Regions from separate parts of the Homo sapiens genome. Here all the other regions are linked to region 2. The links come from fine-mapping of genetic effects on gene expression. A gene starts in region 2. Each other region holds a variant in brackets. All regions are shown on one strand. Distances are between the middles of the regions.

Region 1 (5,255 bases), 84 kb before region 2:
AGATCCGCCCACCTCAGGCTCCCAAAGTGTGGGATTATAGGTGTGAGCCACCGCGTCTGGCTGAAAAGCACTTTCAATGAGACTGTGTTGAATAAAGGGCCAAGGTTCTTGCCACCCAGCACTCATGGGGGCTCTCTCCCCTAGATGGCTGCTCCTCCCACAACACAGCCACAGCAGTGGCAGCCCTGGGTGGCTTCCTATACATCCTGGCAGAATACCCCCCAGCAAACAGAGAGCCACACCCATCCACACCGCCACCACCAAGCAGCCGCTGAGACGGACGGTTCCATGCCAGCTGCCTGGAGGAGGAACAGACCCCTTTAGTCCTCATCCCTTAGATCCTGGAGGGCACGGATCACATCCTGGGAAGAAGGCATCTGGAGGATAAGCAAAGCCACCCCGACACCCAATCTTGGAAGCCCTGAGTAGGCAAGGCCAGGGTAGGTGGGGGCCGGGAGGGACCCAGGTGTGAACGGATGAATAAAGTTCAACTGCAACTGACCCAGGGTTGAGTCTTGTTTCTCAGCTTTGAGGACAACCTTGGACAACCTCTTGGTCTGTTTCAACTCTCCAATCCCACTCAACACAAATTCTTTTTTCTTTTTTCCTTTTTTTTTTTTTTTAATTAATAGATGAGGTCCTGCTCTGTCACCTAGGCTCACTGCAGCCTCAAACTCCTGGGCTCAAGCAATCTTCCCATCTCACCTCCTGAGTAGCTGGGACAACAGGTGTATGCCACCATGCCAAGCTAACTTTTAAATTTTTTGTAGAGATGGGATCTCACTACATGGACTTGGCTGGTCTCGAACTCCCGGCCTCAAGTGATCCTCTTGCCTTGTCCTCCCAAAGTGCTGGGATTACAGGCATGAGCCACTGCACCCAGCCACAAATTCTAAAAAGACCCATAAACTGATATCTTAAAGGCTATTTGTTCAGGTACCAAATATAGTATCTTTCCCAGTGGGAGAAGGAAGGGTCTTGGAAAAAATAGTTCAGGTCATGAGCCAGAACTCAACAGATAACCCTGAAAGGCAGCACATACTCATTTTTACATCCTGAGCACAAAACTCTGCTGTATCATTACATTGCATCACATGGCCATCATGTCATTTTACAAAACACAGTATAGCATAGCGGTTGATGGTGTGGTTCTGTGGCCAGGCTGCCTGAATTCAAGTCCTAGCTGTCTGTGTCCTTGAGCAGTCACCAACTTCTCTGGGACTCAGTTTTCTCATCAGTAAAATTGCGATAATAATAACCCCTACCTTGGAAGGGCACAGTGGCCCGCCCCTATAATCCCAGCACTTTGGGAGGCTGAGGTGGGAGGATCGCTTGGATTCAGAAGTTCGAGACCAGCCTGGGCAACATAACGAGACACCTCCCCACCAACCCTCACTGGGTGCAGTAGTGAACACCTGTAGTCCCAGCTACTCGGGAGGCTCACTTGAGGAGGGAGGATCACTTGAGCCCAGGAGTTCAAGGCTGCAGTGAGGTATGATTGCACCACTGCACTCCAGCCTGGGTAACAGAGTGGGAGTCAAAAAAAAAACAAAACCCAGCCCCTACCTCAATGTTACCTCCACTGCTGTGAGTATTGTGTTTCTAGAATACTGGAAATGGTGCCCGTAACATACTAAGTGCCAAGTAAACGTTACCTGCTGCCTCAAGTGATGACGTCCCATTAAGTGGGGGCTCCTCCGGAAGCTGCCAGAAGAGGCCGCTGCCTTGTCATCGGTTCTCTGGTTCCCAGCTTACAGCTCTTCCCTCGAGCTCTGACTCAGTGTGACTATATCTGAATGTGTTCCCTGGAGCTCTGACACTAATTTAGCAATAAAACCTTCTGGGACATTATGATGGGTTCTGGTGCTGTCTGTGGTGCTGATGACAGCCTGCACGCATTGGACTTTGGGGTAGAAAAACCAGCTGAAAACCCGGTCCCGGGGCTGCAAACCTCTTTACACGCATTGTCCTGCTTTGCCTCAAGGTGGAAAATCGCCACGGATCATCCTCATGTGGCAACTCAGTCATATGTGAGCATCCGAATGAAAATATCCTTGGCTGCTTCTGTGCCCAGCTGAGCAGCCCAGGTGGGTGGTGGGGCGCATGGTTCTTCTCGATCTTTCCTTTAGGAGGTAGGTTTCCCTTGACCTGATCCTCTGCTGCGGTCCTCTGAATGCCTTCCCATGATTGCTCTTAACTTGTCAGGCCTCGAGGAACATCCCTGGATTCTGCTGACAAGTTTGACTTGCTATCTGCAAGTTGCTGTTTTCTTGGGGGAACCAAGGGCCAGAATGTCATATCCACCCAGCAGTCTGTGAGCTTTAAGGATTTCTTTCACATTGTCTTGCAAACAAAAGTTTTCCCAAACAGGCACACCATCTTGAGAGAAGTCAGCCGCACATAAACAAATTGGGGGGATTATGCTCCACCTCTGTGCTTCCTGAATTGGGGATGGAGTCCTCACTGGAGCCTGACACTGGTTCATTTCAGAAGGCTTCAGTTACCAAACCAGGGAGAGGGTGAAATGACTGTGGAGGAAAGCGGAGCGTATGAGTCACTTTCAAGGAAAGGCAATCCTTGGCTCATGCCTATAATCCCAGCACTCCTGAACGGTGAGACCATACATTTCTGTGGTTTAAGCCTCCCAGTTGATGGCACCTTGCTACAGCAGCCCCAGAAACTAATGCAGCACCTGCCTCAAGGAGCTGTTCCTAGTCTCAGCAACAAGGTCCCTGCAGCCCAACCACACCCGTGGGGAAGCAGATGACCCGTCCTGATGACCTGGTTCACAGCCTGATCCTCTATTTAAAGGATCGATGTGAAACCGAAAATTAAAAAAAA[CG/G]TTCTCAAGGTGGGCGGATCTCTTGAGGTCAGAAGTTCAAGACCAGCCTGGCTAACATGGTGAAACCCCATCTCTACTGAAAATACAAAAATTAGCCATGCGTGGTGGCTCTCGCCTGTAATCCCAGCTACTAGGGAAACTGAAGCAGGAGAATCGCTTGCACCTGGGAGGCAGAGACTGCCGTGAGGGAAGATCATGCCACTGCACTCCAGCCTGGGTGACAGAGCAAGACTCCATCTCAAAAAAGCAAAAACAAACAAACACAAAAAGAACTTTCTCAGTGGCATGCCACAGCCCAACTGTAGCCCAAAAACTCCCTGGAATTTATCCACTCAGCACACACATCCAGCCCACATGGAGTTCACGTCCCTTGCAAGGCTCTCCTATCTTTCTGAATACTTTTCCCCTGACATCCACGTGGCTCACACTCCACTTTGCCCCAGTCTCTGCTCAAATGCCCTCTCATATGACCAGGCGCAGTGGCTCATGCCTAGAATCCCAGCACTTTGGGAGACCGAGGTGGGCGGATTGCCTGAGCTCAGGATTCGGAGACCTGCCTGGGCAACATGAGAAAAATCCATCTCCACAAAAAAACACAAAAATCAGCTGGGCATGGTGACCCGTGCCTGTGGTCCCAGCTACTTGGGAGGCTGAGGCAGGAGGATCACTTGAGACTTGGGAGATTGAGGCTGCAGTGAGCTATGATCATGCCATTGCATCCCAGCCTGGGTGACAGTGCGAGAACTTGTCTCAAAAGAAAAAAAGAGGGAACCCTCCAAAGGGCTTGAAACAAAACTCGAGGTCAAGACAAGGAGCACCCACAAATGAGTCAATGGTTCTCCTCGTTGGAGCAGAACAGCTCCTGACAGCCTCCTGTTCAAGTAGCACAGAGAGCAGAAAAACCAGTCACAGGCAGATTGTTTGGAGCGGGTGGGAGGAAGACAGGGAGGAAAGGAGGCTTGGGACTTGGAGTTAAATGAGAGAGGGATGGAAAAGCAGGTTCCCCCGGCACAAACCCCACCTCAGGGCTTCATCAAGGCCTTCTTTCCCTGCCCCCCAAATACACACCCCGAGAGAGAGGCCCTCATTGGTGGAAGCACCCAGCCCACGGTGGCTCTATGTGCCCCTGCCACAATCCTTGGTCAAAAGTGCATTCCTTCCGGCTCCCGGCTCAAGGTATAAAATCCTACTGTAAACAAGTAATTCCATTAAGTCATCATGTTCTTAAAGTTTTTCCTTTTTTTTTTTGAGACAGGATCTGACTCTGTCACCCACGCTGGAGTGCAGTAGCATAATCTCAGATCACTACAACCGCCACCTCCTGGGTTCAAGCGGTTCTCCTGCCTCAGCCTCTTGAGTAGCTAGGATTACAGGCACGTGCCACCACACCCGGCTAATTTTTGTATTTTTAGTAGAGACAGTGTTTCCCCATGTTGGCCAGGCTGGTCTCGAACTCCTGACCTCAGGTGATCCACCCGCCTTGGCGTCCCAAAGAGCCGAGATTATAGGCATGAACCAGCATGCCTGGCCCTTTTTTTTTTTTTTTTTTTTTTAAAGAGACGGGGGTCTTGGTGTGTTGCCCAGGCTGGCCTGGAACTCCTGGGCTCAAGCAATCCTCCTGCCTCTGCTGGGATTACAGCCATGAGCCACCATGCCTGGTTGAAAGTGTTTCCTCTTAAGATGTAAATATACACAGGAAACGGAATGAGTTAAGACTTTCTCCATCATGTAGCTTTAGTGTGAAGGAGTTGTGAGAACAGTATCTGCAGAACTGTTGCTTGGAATGAGGTCTGAGAGAGCAAGAGAGGGCGGGGAAGGGATTGGTGAGAGCTGGGGCGAGTTCAAGCCACCCTTTCATGACTGCTTCCCCACTCCCATCTCTCAGTGGCTAAGCTTCTGCCCCCTCACCCACCAGAGCCAGGAAGACTGACTTGGGCAATGTCCCACCAGTATCCTTGCTTTTTCTGGGTCTTCACCTATTCTCTTTCTTTCTCATTTTTTATTTCCATAGATTTTTGGGGAATAGGTGGTATTTGGTTACGTGAGTGGTGATTTGAGAGATTTTGGTACACCCAGGACCTGAGCAGTATACACTGAAACCAATTTATAGTCTTTTATCCCTCACCTCCTTCCCATTCTTCCCCACCCGAGTTCCCAAATTCCACTGTAACTTTTTTTTTTTTTTTGAGGCTGGAGTGCAGTGGTGGTGCGATCTCGGCTCACCGCAACCTCCGCCTGCTGGGTTCAAGCAATTCTTGTGCCTCAGCCTCCTGAGTAGCTGGAATTACAGGCACGCGCCACCACACCCGGCTAATTTTGGGGGTTTTTTTGTTTGTTTGTTTATTTGAAACAGAGTCTTGCTCTGTCCCCCAGGCTGAAGTGCAGTGGTGCGATCTGGGCTCACTGCAACCTC
Region 2 (5,521 bases):
ATCTCCTGACCTTGTGATCCACCCACCTCGGCCTCCCAAAGCGCTGGGATTACAGGTGTGAGCCACTGCACCCGGCTTAAGTTCAGCAACTTTCTAAAAACATACAACCAGAGCATGGCAGAGCACAGCAGAACCCTAAAGCATCTGAATTCACGTCCCTGGATCTCTTCACCATCCCCTGGTGTTCCACTCCCATTACGCAGAAGCAAAGTCACTCAGGCACTTGCAAAAACAGTAACGATCATAGCTGGATCTCAGTGAGCATTTGATCTGCGTCAGCCCCGTACCAGGAGCTTTATACACATTGACTCATTTAATCCACAGCATGACACCAGGATTTGGAAGCCAGGAGATTCCCATTGGTGATGGGGAGTGGAGGCTCATGGAGGTGAAGTGACTTGCCCCACAGTCACTCAGCTCGTCAATTGGGGAGCTAGAATATGACCCTAAGCCAGTTCCTGCCTCTTTGCTGTCCTAGAACCATCTGCCTGTAACAGCACAAGGTATGTGGATGATTTTGGTGATGCTTTTAAATCCTCTGTGTGACAATAAACATATACGCATGTAGATTCATAGAATAAGACAGGACTGGACACACAGGCACACACAGCCACCAAGAGATATGAAAGTCCCTGGATAGAAGGCTGGGGTTAAGCAGTCAGTGCTGGGGTGGGACAGATGGGGGTGGATGCTAATGTTTCTTACACTTTCAATACATTAATTTACAAGACTTCGGTGTAATAACAGCGACAGCATATTTTGTGAGCTCCTACTGTGTGCCCGGCACACAGCAAGGAGCACCAAGAACTATCTCATTTACTCCTCCCCGCAACCTTGTAGCATTGTCCCCATGTTACTGAGCAGGGAAGTGAAGTGCTCAGAGGCAGAGGGATGCAGCCAAGAAGGAATTCCACATCCACCTATGTCCAGCTTCTGCCCCCAGGGTGAAAAGACCAGTGATCCTGGGGGCCAAGGATCTGGCAGCCAATTCTAGGCCTCCAACTGACTTGCTGCACAACACAGAGTACATCACAAAGCAAACCTACCCACTCATTCTCTCTCTCGTCCCAGTGTCAGCTTCCTTAAAGGGGAGGGAAGGGGGTCTGTGAGCAGAAGGAGGGCTCTGTGGTCAAATGTGAGGTTCTAGAGTCTCCTTTGTGGGGATCTCAGCCCCGACTCCACCTCTGCGTAGATACAGAACTTAGTGTCATCCCTTCACCTGTCAAAGCCTCAGTTTCATGGAGGTTACATGGGAAAATAACAGCTATCGGGAATTGGAAGAAACATCATCTGTTAAGACAGTGCTGTAAACATTCAATAAACAGCTGTTGTCATTATCACCACCATTCCATTTATCACTGTGATATGCCATTATATGAAATGACAGCAGTGGCTTGGCCCCTGATACCTTTGTTTTCTATCAGGAGAGTCTAAAGTAAGGGAGCAGGTCAGCTTCAACAAGGAGAAGGAAGAAAGACTTTGTGTTTTGGTCACTGGGCCGAGGATAGGATGGTTGGACAGAGAGGTCACTGGATAGAAGTTAAACCCACCAGGTCAGCTGAGTAACTCACTAATTCCTTCTGATCTGGGAGTCTAAGGAGCTCCGTCTTCCTACCGCCATAGCTGATCTCAAGCCCCTCCAACTGTCACATGGGGGCCCAAGAATCAGGAGTCACTCACCGCCATGACCAGCTCAAACGGGTACTTGTAGACTCGGACAGGAGACTGGTATCTTTGCACCATGTTCACGCTGGAGCACCAATGGAGGTCACCAGGCAGGGGTGTGCACAGAGCCTGGGGCGAGGAGTGACTGGTGAGGTTGCAGCTCCCACCTCGGGAAGCAGGGACACCACCCACCAAGTGTAAGGGGCAGCCCCTGGCCCCACCCACACAGCTCCCCAGCCTTCAAATTGAGAAGGCTGATATTCCCCCCAAATTACTCCAGGCCAAGCCCCAACAGCTTCCCTGTCATTAGCCATGGCCCCAGACCACGCTCAGCCTTCCAAGAGCAGTCAGCACCCCCAAACTTTCCTCTACCCCCACCCCTTCACACTGAGGGCCCCCAGAAGCCTTACGGCCACCCACACAGACACACACACATTTGCAATTCTTACACTCCCACGGTTCTATTCACGCATGCACCCCGCAGCTTGCCACAGACTTGCTGGCCTACAGCCCACCCCCGAGTCTCCTTGCACCTGCCCTCCCATTTTCCTCCCAGACACCCTGACATACACACACAGCCTTCACCACATTTCACAGGCACTGTCTCTATCACACACATGTACACACGCAGGTTTCCCTCCCACACGGGACTGCTTTTGCACACGCCTCCAACTTTGCACACACACCCTGAAACACGCACCTGCCCAGCTCCACGCACGCAATTCCCCTGGTGTGCACAGACGTGCACACACGCACACACACCCGTGCGCACATGCACACACACGTACACACACGTAGAGGCAATCGCACACGCATGCACACACAGGTCCCCGCAGCTTTGCTCACCCTCGCCCTCGGGAGCCTTTGGGAATGCAGCCTAGGGGAAGTGCCCTGGAAGCCCGCCTGGCTCGGGAGCTGAGCGCTTACCCGCGCCCGCCTGGCCTGGAGCGCAGTACCTGAGGCGGGGCCCGATCGCGGATCTCTAGCCTGGTGTGTCCCGCCTTGAACACCCTGCGGCCAGGACAGCTGTGGAAGGCCGGAGGGGCGGGAGCGAAACCTGCCGGGCCGAGAGAGCTCCAGGACCCGGGACAGCGGAGATCCTGGCCTGGCCCCGCCCCTGACCTGGTCCCGCCCACGTCCCCGGCCATGGCCCCGCCCAGGTTGGCCCTGCCCCCTAACTGGTCCCGCCCCACTCTGGCCCCGCCCCAGGCGAACTCCCCCTGGTTCTAGCCCCGCCCCTTATTTTTAGATGTCGCTTGTTTGACCACGCCCTCAGCCCAGTCCTTTCTCTAGATTGGTCACACCTCAGGAAGTCCCCTCCCCCTTCACTGGCCCCGCCCTCCAAGGCCCTCAGCCTCGGGGAATGGTAGGCCACAGGACGACCCCGCCCTAATCTAGCTCTGCCTCCAAGCAGACCCTGAGTCCGGGCCGACCCGCCCCGGACCCTGCGTCTGGCCGACAGTACTGTTTACATTTGTAGATAAGCAGAATTTACGCTTTTCTTGCTCAGATTAACCTCGCCCTCGTCCCGCTGCACTTGGGTCTGACTGGCTCCTCCACCTGTCCCCGCCCCACGGCCCGCGCATGCACCTTCGCCCACTCTGCACACCTTCACAGAGCGCCTGCTGGGGGTCAGCCCTGTCCAGGCGCTGGAGAGCCGCCGGTGAGCCACACGCACGAATCCCTGCCCTCGTGGAGTTTATACTACGGTGGGGAGACAGACACTCAATAAATAAGGCAAATATATGATGTGTGAGGTAGTGAAAAACTCTAACGAGAGAAAAATAAGCAGGAAAGGGGCTCAAGGAGCCAGCGGAGAGAAAGGACAATTTAAAACAGGTAAGAGGCCGGGCGCCATGTCTCACGCCTGTAATCCAAACACTTTAGGAGGCGGAAGCGGGAGGACCGCTTGAACCCAGGAGTTGGAGACCACCCTGGGTAACATAGCAAGAACCTATCTCTACAAAAAAATTTTTTTTTAGTTTAGGCAGGGCGCGGTGGCTCACGCCTGTAATCCCAGCACACTGAGAGGCCAAGGCAGGCAGATCAGCTGAGGTCAGGAGTTCGAGAACAGCATGGCCAATATGAGGAAACCCCGTCTCTACTAAAATACAAAATTAGCCGGGCATGGTGGCGTATACCTGTAATCTCAGCTACTCGGGAGGCTGAGGCAGGAGAATCGCTTGAATCAAGGAGGCGGAGGTTGCAGTGAGCCGAGACTGCGCCACTGCACTCCAGCCTGGGCAAGAAGAACAAAGCTCCGTCGCAAAAAAAAAAAAAAAAAATTAGCCAGGCGTGTTGGCACGTGCCTGTGGTCCCAGCTACTCAAGAGGCTGAGGCAGGAGGATCCCTTGAGCCCAGAAGTTCAAAGCTGCAGTGAGCTGTTACCTGGCCACTGCACTCCAGCCTGGGCAACAAAGCAAGACTCGGTCTCAAAATAAATAAGTAAATAAATAAATAAAACAGGGAGTAAGGGGGCCTCCCTTGGGAGAGTGACATTTGTCCATCACTCTCATTTTAACTCACACTTAACCCCTTTCAGCCCTCCCAGGACTCCCAGGGGACCAACCTTGCTCCCAGAAGTCCTGCCTTGCCACTCCTCATCTGTTTAGCCTACAAGACCCAAGAAATTGGCTCTGGACAGTGCTGTCATCCATGTATTCACTCATTCAACATTTACTGAGCACCTACTACGTGCCACCGTGGGGTGAATTCACCCCTTCAAGCAGGGGAAGTCAGAGGTGGCCAGGGAGATGGACAACCCCTGATATATTTCAAGTATGTCACTGCACCCTGTGAAAATCACCTCTCTTCCCTTCCTAGCCTGCATCACATTCTAATATTGCATTTATTCGTTTTATATATCTGTGGGTTCCTGGAGGTCTCTCTCAGGAGACTGTGAGCTCCCTGAGGGCAGGGGCAGTGGCTGCCTTATTCAGCTGCCCGCATGTTGGGAAGGATCTTACTGGGGACCTGGCAGGCAGGCAGCAGGTGCCCAGCAGACTCTTGGCTTAGGTAATCAAGGGCGGAAATGGGACACAAAGTTCCCATCCCTGTCGCAAGGTGGCAGCAAATGATAGCCCATGGCTCCTGGAGTAACACAAGGGTGAGTAGGTGGGGGACATGGGATCCAGGGATGACTGTCCTAACCCGGGCTCATCCAGGAAATGCCCAGCTCTGCCCAGGCATCGCCACAGAGCAAAGTGAACGTTAACACCGTTAGCTGCTGTTACCACCACGAAAGGCGTTAAGTCCGCCTCTCCTGCTGCCCAACATTGAGGGAGGACAATGACTGCGTGGGAGACAGAGGTGTGACAGCCCTGCGGGTACAGAGAGCTCAAAGTGGAAACTGGGGCCTGGAGGGGAGTGAGAACCCCACTCCCTCCTCCTCCAGCCCCAGGGAAGGGAATTAATAACGCCACCAACACTCACTCCAGCTTTTTTTGGGTTTTGGGGTTTTTTTTTTACGTGGAGTCTTGCTCTGTTGCCCAGGCTGGAGTGCAGTGGCGCAGTCTCGGCTCACTACAACCTCCGCCTCCCAGGTTCAAGCAATTCTCCTGCCTCAGCCTCCCGAGTAGCTGGGATTACAGGCGCTTGCCACCACACCTGGCTAATTTTTGTATTTTCAGTAGAGACAGGTTTCATCATGTTGGCCAGGCTGGCCTCAAACTCCTGACCTCAGGTGATCCACCCGCCTCAGCCACCCAAAGTGCTGGGATTACAGACATGAGCCACCACACCTGGCCCAGTTGCCTATTATTACTGTTCTACTAATTATTCCTACCACTTGTTGACACTCCATTGGCGCTTACTATACCTAGCACCATTCTAAAGCTTTACAAACACGAATGCATTT
Region 3 (5,521 bases), 190 kb before region 2:
CCCAGCTAATTTTTGTATTTTCTTTAGTAGAGACAGGGTTTCACCATGTTGGTCAGGTTGGTCTTGAACTCCTGACCTCTGATCTGCCCACCTCGGCCTCCTAAAGTGCTGGGATTATAGGCGTGAGCCACCGGCTCACGTATACTGTAACTGTATATTGAAAGTTTTTTTTTTAATAATTAACAGGTTTAACAGAATGTGTCTCCTAATCTATTCCTTTCACTGCGGACATCTATTGCTTTTTCAGCCTAGCAGCCCTCCCCTCTATGGAGACTCACACTTCCTACTCCAGTCACTTGGCTGTCATGGGGGCTGCCATGTTCTCACATGACTCCACCCCTCTGGCCTCAGTTGATTGGTCCAGGGATGAGCATCTGGCCTAAATTGGCCAATCAGAATTCTTCCCTTGAATATTTTTCCAAACTGGCACTAGACCAAGTTAATCATTCTCTGTGATGACAGGAACTGTGTGTAGTGAGAAATACAGGAGCTTTTGTGGCCACATTTCTTGCCTTATGGAGAAAAGGCTTGAGTAAGAAGAAATTAAGCCAGTATGCAGACAAAGCTAGAAACAGAGATGGAGAGAGAGATCTGATGGTGTCTCCATCCAGAGATGGAGAGAGAGATCTTGTGGTAAGCCCCCTGGTTTTTATCATTCTAGTACATGCTTGCTACTGCATACAACCAAGACTTTCACCTGAGGGCCTTCTCAAAGTTAGGCATGGAGTATGTCAGAAAAGCCACAGAAGCCGGGCGCAGTGGCTCACGCCTGTAATCCCAACACTGGGAGGCCGAGGCAAGTGGATCACGAGGTCAGGAGTTCGAGACCAGCCTGACCAACATGGCAAAACCCCGTCTCTACAAAAAATAAAAAAATTAGCGGGGCAGGGTGGCAGGCGCCTGTAATCCCAGCTACTCAGGAAACTGAGGCAAGAGAATCGTTTGAACCTGGGAGGCAGATGTTGCAGTGAGCCGAGATCATGCCATTGCAGTCCAGCCTGGGTGACAGAGCAAGACTATGTCTCAAAAAAAAAAAAAAAAAAGAAAAAAGAAAAGCCAGAAAGTTGATGCCCTGGGACCACTCCTCAGCCAGTGACAGATGGGAGCCAGGCTATAAATGCTTCAGTATCTTTGCCCCCTGGATGGAACAACTTTGAAATGTATTCCACATCACCTCCCCGAGGTCCCCAGTGGGGTCAAATCCTAGTTGCCTGGAATGGTAAGCTGCTCATTAAAGCCCCCTCTGTGGCCTCCTGCCTTTCCATGAATCAGTTCCTCACTCCCCTTTTGGTGTTCCCTAGAATCATCTCCTAAATAATCCACTTGCAATCCTGTCCCTCTTTCAGGATCTGCTTGGGGTTGGGGTTGGGGAGTGCAGACCAAAACATGATCCCTTTTCCACTCCACACTAGTAAGATGAGTTTCTGTCACTGGCAACCAAGAGTTCTGACTATTACCTCCCTCTGAGATAATTTCTAAAATGTATTTGGGAATTTCCCCACCTCTACCCCACTGCCTATGTCATCAATATGTAGATTTCTTAACAAAGTTTATTGGTATTCTTTGATCAACCTCAAGTTTCACAAAGCACACTGCACTTTCATAAGGGATCCCCATGACTGACAGATCAGCCATTCAAAAGAAGGGAAGTGTCAGAGATGGCTCTGCTAGACTCACGTATTCTTTGGTAGAATCTGGGTCAGGATGGTATGGTTGGGAGATGCTTCTGGAGCTCTGGGACCCACAAGCCTGTGTGTCCCATGGTGGAGTATTAGGACAACTTGAAAACATAGTGGCAGGACGAGGCTTCCTCCCTCCCCTGCAGTCCATCCTCCACCACACCGAACGTGCTCAATAGATATTGGTTAAATGAATAATGGGGCCAGGCATGGTGGCTCACGCCTGTAATCCCACCACTTTGGGAGGCTGAGGCAGGTGGATCACCTGAGGTCAGGAGTTCAAGATCAGCCCGGACAACATGGCAAAACCCCGTCTCTACTAAAAATATAAAAATTAGCCAGGTGTGGTGGTTGGCGCCTGTAATCCCAGCTACTTGGCAGGCTGAGGCAGGAGAATCACTTGAATCTGGGAGGCGGAGTTTACAGTATGCTGAGATGGCACCACTGCACTCCAGCCTGGGCAACAGAGCGAGACTCAAAAAAAAAAAAAAAAAAAAAAAAAAAAGAATAATGGATTTATTCCTTTCAAACTGCAACTCACCAAAAGAAGACCAAGACGCATCACAATGTTGTGGCCACAATCACCACAGTGACGATAATGAATATAATCAACTCTCGAGCCAGCCACGTCCACTAAACCTAGCGGATCACATCTGGTGTTTCACTTTGAGGATGTTTTAGTGGTCATGGTAGATGGTTGCCTGACTGCTGGCTGTTTCTACTGTTTCAGGAATATAGAGATGTGTACGCATGACCCCTAAAATTAATTAGTGTGCAATTCTCAAAGAGCCAAACTCTACCCCAAAAGCTACTGGAAGGAAAAAAAA[AAAAAAAG/G]AGAGTTTTAATTCTCAAAGAGACAAACTAGATAGTAAAAGCATTTATGTTCCCTTTGAGAATCTTCCCACCAAGGACTCAAAGTGGTCTCCAGACCAGGGAATGCCTGGGGCCTTGGACATTCCCAATTCTGGTATCACCTCCCATTCTCCTTTAGGTCCAGTTTTCTCAGAGGAGCATACATTGTTCATTGCCACCAAGGGTATCCAAGGACACAAACTGAAGATAATAGTGCTTTATTGTCTCTCAGTCATCTGTCTCTCCCACATGCTGGAAGGAGAGCCAAGTCCAATTTATCCAATTACAAAATAGCAACATTGGCATCATGAGATCAGCTAACAAAACTTTCAGAGGCAATCTATCTTCCTACCAAAAGTAACCAACATCTGTGGAGCACTTACCATGACTAAGGGACAACGTAAGTGGTTTGCATGCTGCATGTGTCAGGATGGACTACGTTATGCTGCAGTAACAAATTAACCCCAGAGTCTCAGCAGCTTAGCAACCAAGGTTGATTTCTTACATACCATGTCCACAATGGGTTGGCTGGGTATGGTGTCCTCCATATGGCCCCTCAAAGACCTAGAATGATGGAAATTCTACCATCTTAATGCAGGGATTCTCCCATAGTTACTGCACCAGGAGATGAGAGAATGAGATAGTTATTCCCAAGCCCTCAAAAGCTGTACACTAGAGGTGATGTCAGTGACTTCCACTTATAGAGCATTGGACCCTGGCATGGATCCATCTAACTATTGGAGATCTGGGGAATACGGGGAGCACATGGAAATCCCATGAGCAGTAACCATTCCTGCCAGCATGCATTATTTCATCTGAACCTCACAACCCCATGGAATATATAACAGAAGCTTGGAGAGTGATCGGACCTGCCCCAAGGCGTCACAGATAATGAGTTGCAGAGCTGACATATGACCCTCGGCCTGGCAGGATTCAAACCACTACGCTGCATACTCATCACAAAATTCTACGAAATTCCTCATACAGCAAAACACCACACCAAGTGAAAAGAAAGCCAAGTTGTGCAAATACACAATAGAACTCCCCTGACACTTCACCTCCTCACCCACCCCACCCCCACCGAAAGAATCTACCCACACAAATAGCTGGAAGAAATTCTCAGGCAATTTCAGCAGGGGAAATGGGGTTATCTCATCTGGGTCTCACATCCGACCTCGTCAAGACAAGACCTTCCCTAAACTTCACCTGAACACCTGGACACACCGTCATGTCTTGCCGCTTCTTGTTACTAGAAATCCAATGATGACATCTTTATACAACGTACAGGTCTTTCTATAAGTGCCAAGATAAATGTCATCCCTGTACCTGCATATCATTCAGAGGTAGGCAAGCTTCTATGTAAAGTGCTAGACAGTAAATATTATCAGCTTTGCAGGACTCATCTGATCTCCATCCTATATTCTTTTTTTGTTTTTGTTTTTGTTTTTTACAATTTTTTTCTTTTTAGTTAGGGTCTAAAAAGAAAATAAAACTTATCCATGGTGTGATATGAACGTTAAATACCTGCTCACTGAACGAAGCAGACATGAAAGGTCATATATTGTACAATTTCATTTATATGCAATGCTCAGACTAAGCCAATCAACAGAGACAGAAAGTAGATGAGAGGTTTCCAGGGGCTGCAGGAGGGGGTATGCAGAGTGACTGCTGAATCGGGTATGAGGCTTCCAATTGAGGTGTTGAAAAAGCTCTGAAACTAGGAAGTAGTGATAATTGCACAACATGATAATTGTACAGAATGTCACTGAATTGTACACTTACAGCTGTACAAAATGGTAAATGTTGCATATATTATACCACAATTTTATTCATTTATTTTAGAGACAGAGTCTCACTCCGTCACCCAGGCTGCAGTGCAATGGCACAATCATAGCTCACTGCTGCCTTTACCACCTGGGCTCAAGCAATCCTCCCACCTAGTCTTCCAAGTAGCTGGGACTACAGGTGAACGCTACCACACCCAGGGTTTTTAATTTTTTTATAGAGTTGCATTCTCAGTATATTGCCCAGACTGGCCCAAACTCCTGGCTTCAAGCGATTCTCTCATCTCAGCCTCCCAAAGTGCTGGGATAACAGATGTAAGCCATCGCGCCAGGCAATTTTTAATTCTTATGCGAAATTTTCAAGTAATAAATTCCTAGGATTAAAAAAATGTTGATCAACATGGGGATTAGAGGAAAAAATAATTTTAAACAAGAGGAAAAATTAAATGAGATGATGTACATGTGTACAGTGCCTGGCCTCATGATCACTGAGTCCACTGCAGTTTTTTTTTTTTTTTTTTTTTTTTTTTGAGACAGGGTCTCACTCTGTCACCCAGGCTGAGTACAGTGGCATAATCACGGCTTACTGCAGCCTCAATCCCCTGGGCTCAAGTGATCCCCCCACCTCAGCCTCTCAAGTAGCTGGGACTACAGGTGCACACAATCACACCTAGCTATTTTTGTTGTTGTTGTATTTTTGGTAGTGACAGGGTCTCACCATGTTGCCCAGGCTGGTCTCGAACTCCTGGGCTCAAACGATCTTCCCACCTCAGCTTCCCAAAGTGCTGGGATTACAGGTGTGAGCCACCGTGCCCATCCTGTTGTAGCCACTTTAATAGTGCTGGTGAACAATAATTTGCTCTCCCTATAAAAACAGGACATACTAAGCCAAGGAAAGCACCAATCTAGTTTGTTCTCCCCAGATCTTCAAAATGTTGGAATTAGTATAAGAGTCCAAAATATTTCACAAGGATTTTTTTTTTTTTTTTTTTTTTTTGAGACGGAGTCTCATTCCGTCGTCCAGGTTGGAGTGCAGTGGCACAATCTCGGCTCACTGCAACCTCCGCCTCCCGGGTTCAAGCAACTCTCCTGCCTCAGCCTCCAGAATAGCTGGGATTACAGATATGTACCACCACGCCCGGCTAATTTTTGCATTTTTAGTAGAGATGGGGTTTCTCCATGCTGGCCAGGCTGGTCTCGAACTCC

Evidence for each region.
Region 1: its variant is fine-mapped to the expression of SEC14L5 in sun-exposed skin (GTEx, PIP 0.92).
Region 3: its variant is fine-mapped to the expression of SEC14L5 in whole blood (INTERVAL, PIP 0.91).

Annotation. Positions count from the first base shown.
Region 1 is chr16:5,039,368-5,044,622 of GRCh38, reverse strand. C16orf89 (chromosome 16 open reading frame 89) reads left to right here. Exons shown (of 8, transcript NM_001098514.3): 8 at 145-501. The coding sequence ends at 275. It overlaps NAGPA-AS1 (NAGPA antisense RNA 1), which reads right to left. Exons shown (of 2, transcript NR_038913.1): 2 at 1,652-2,528. Among named protein-coding and RNA genes, the nearest start is that of NAGPA, 8.1 kb to the right of the region's middle. The variant CG/G (reference allele first, on the strand shown) is at 2,842.
Region 2 is chr16:4,955,546-4,961,066 of GRCh38, reverse strand. SEC14L5 (SEC14 like lipid binding 5) reads right to left here and starts at 2,737. Exons shown (of 16, transcript NM_014692.2): 1 at 2,622-2,737; 2 at 1,681-1,794. The coding sequence starts at 1,743. RefSeq lists an enhancer at 2,210-2,745 and silencers at 2,549-2,844, 2,643-2,852.
Region 3 is chr16:5,149,046-5,154,566 of GRCh38, reverse strand. No RefSeq gene overlaps it. Among named protein-coding and RNA genes, the nearest start is that of EEF2KMT, 54 kb to the right of the region's middle. The variant AAAAAAAG/G (reference allele first, on the strand shown) is at 2,507.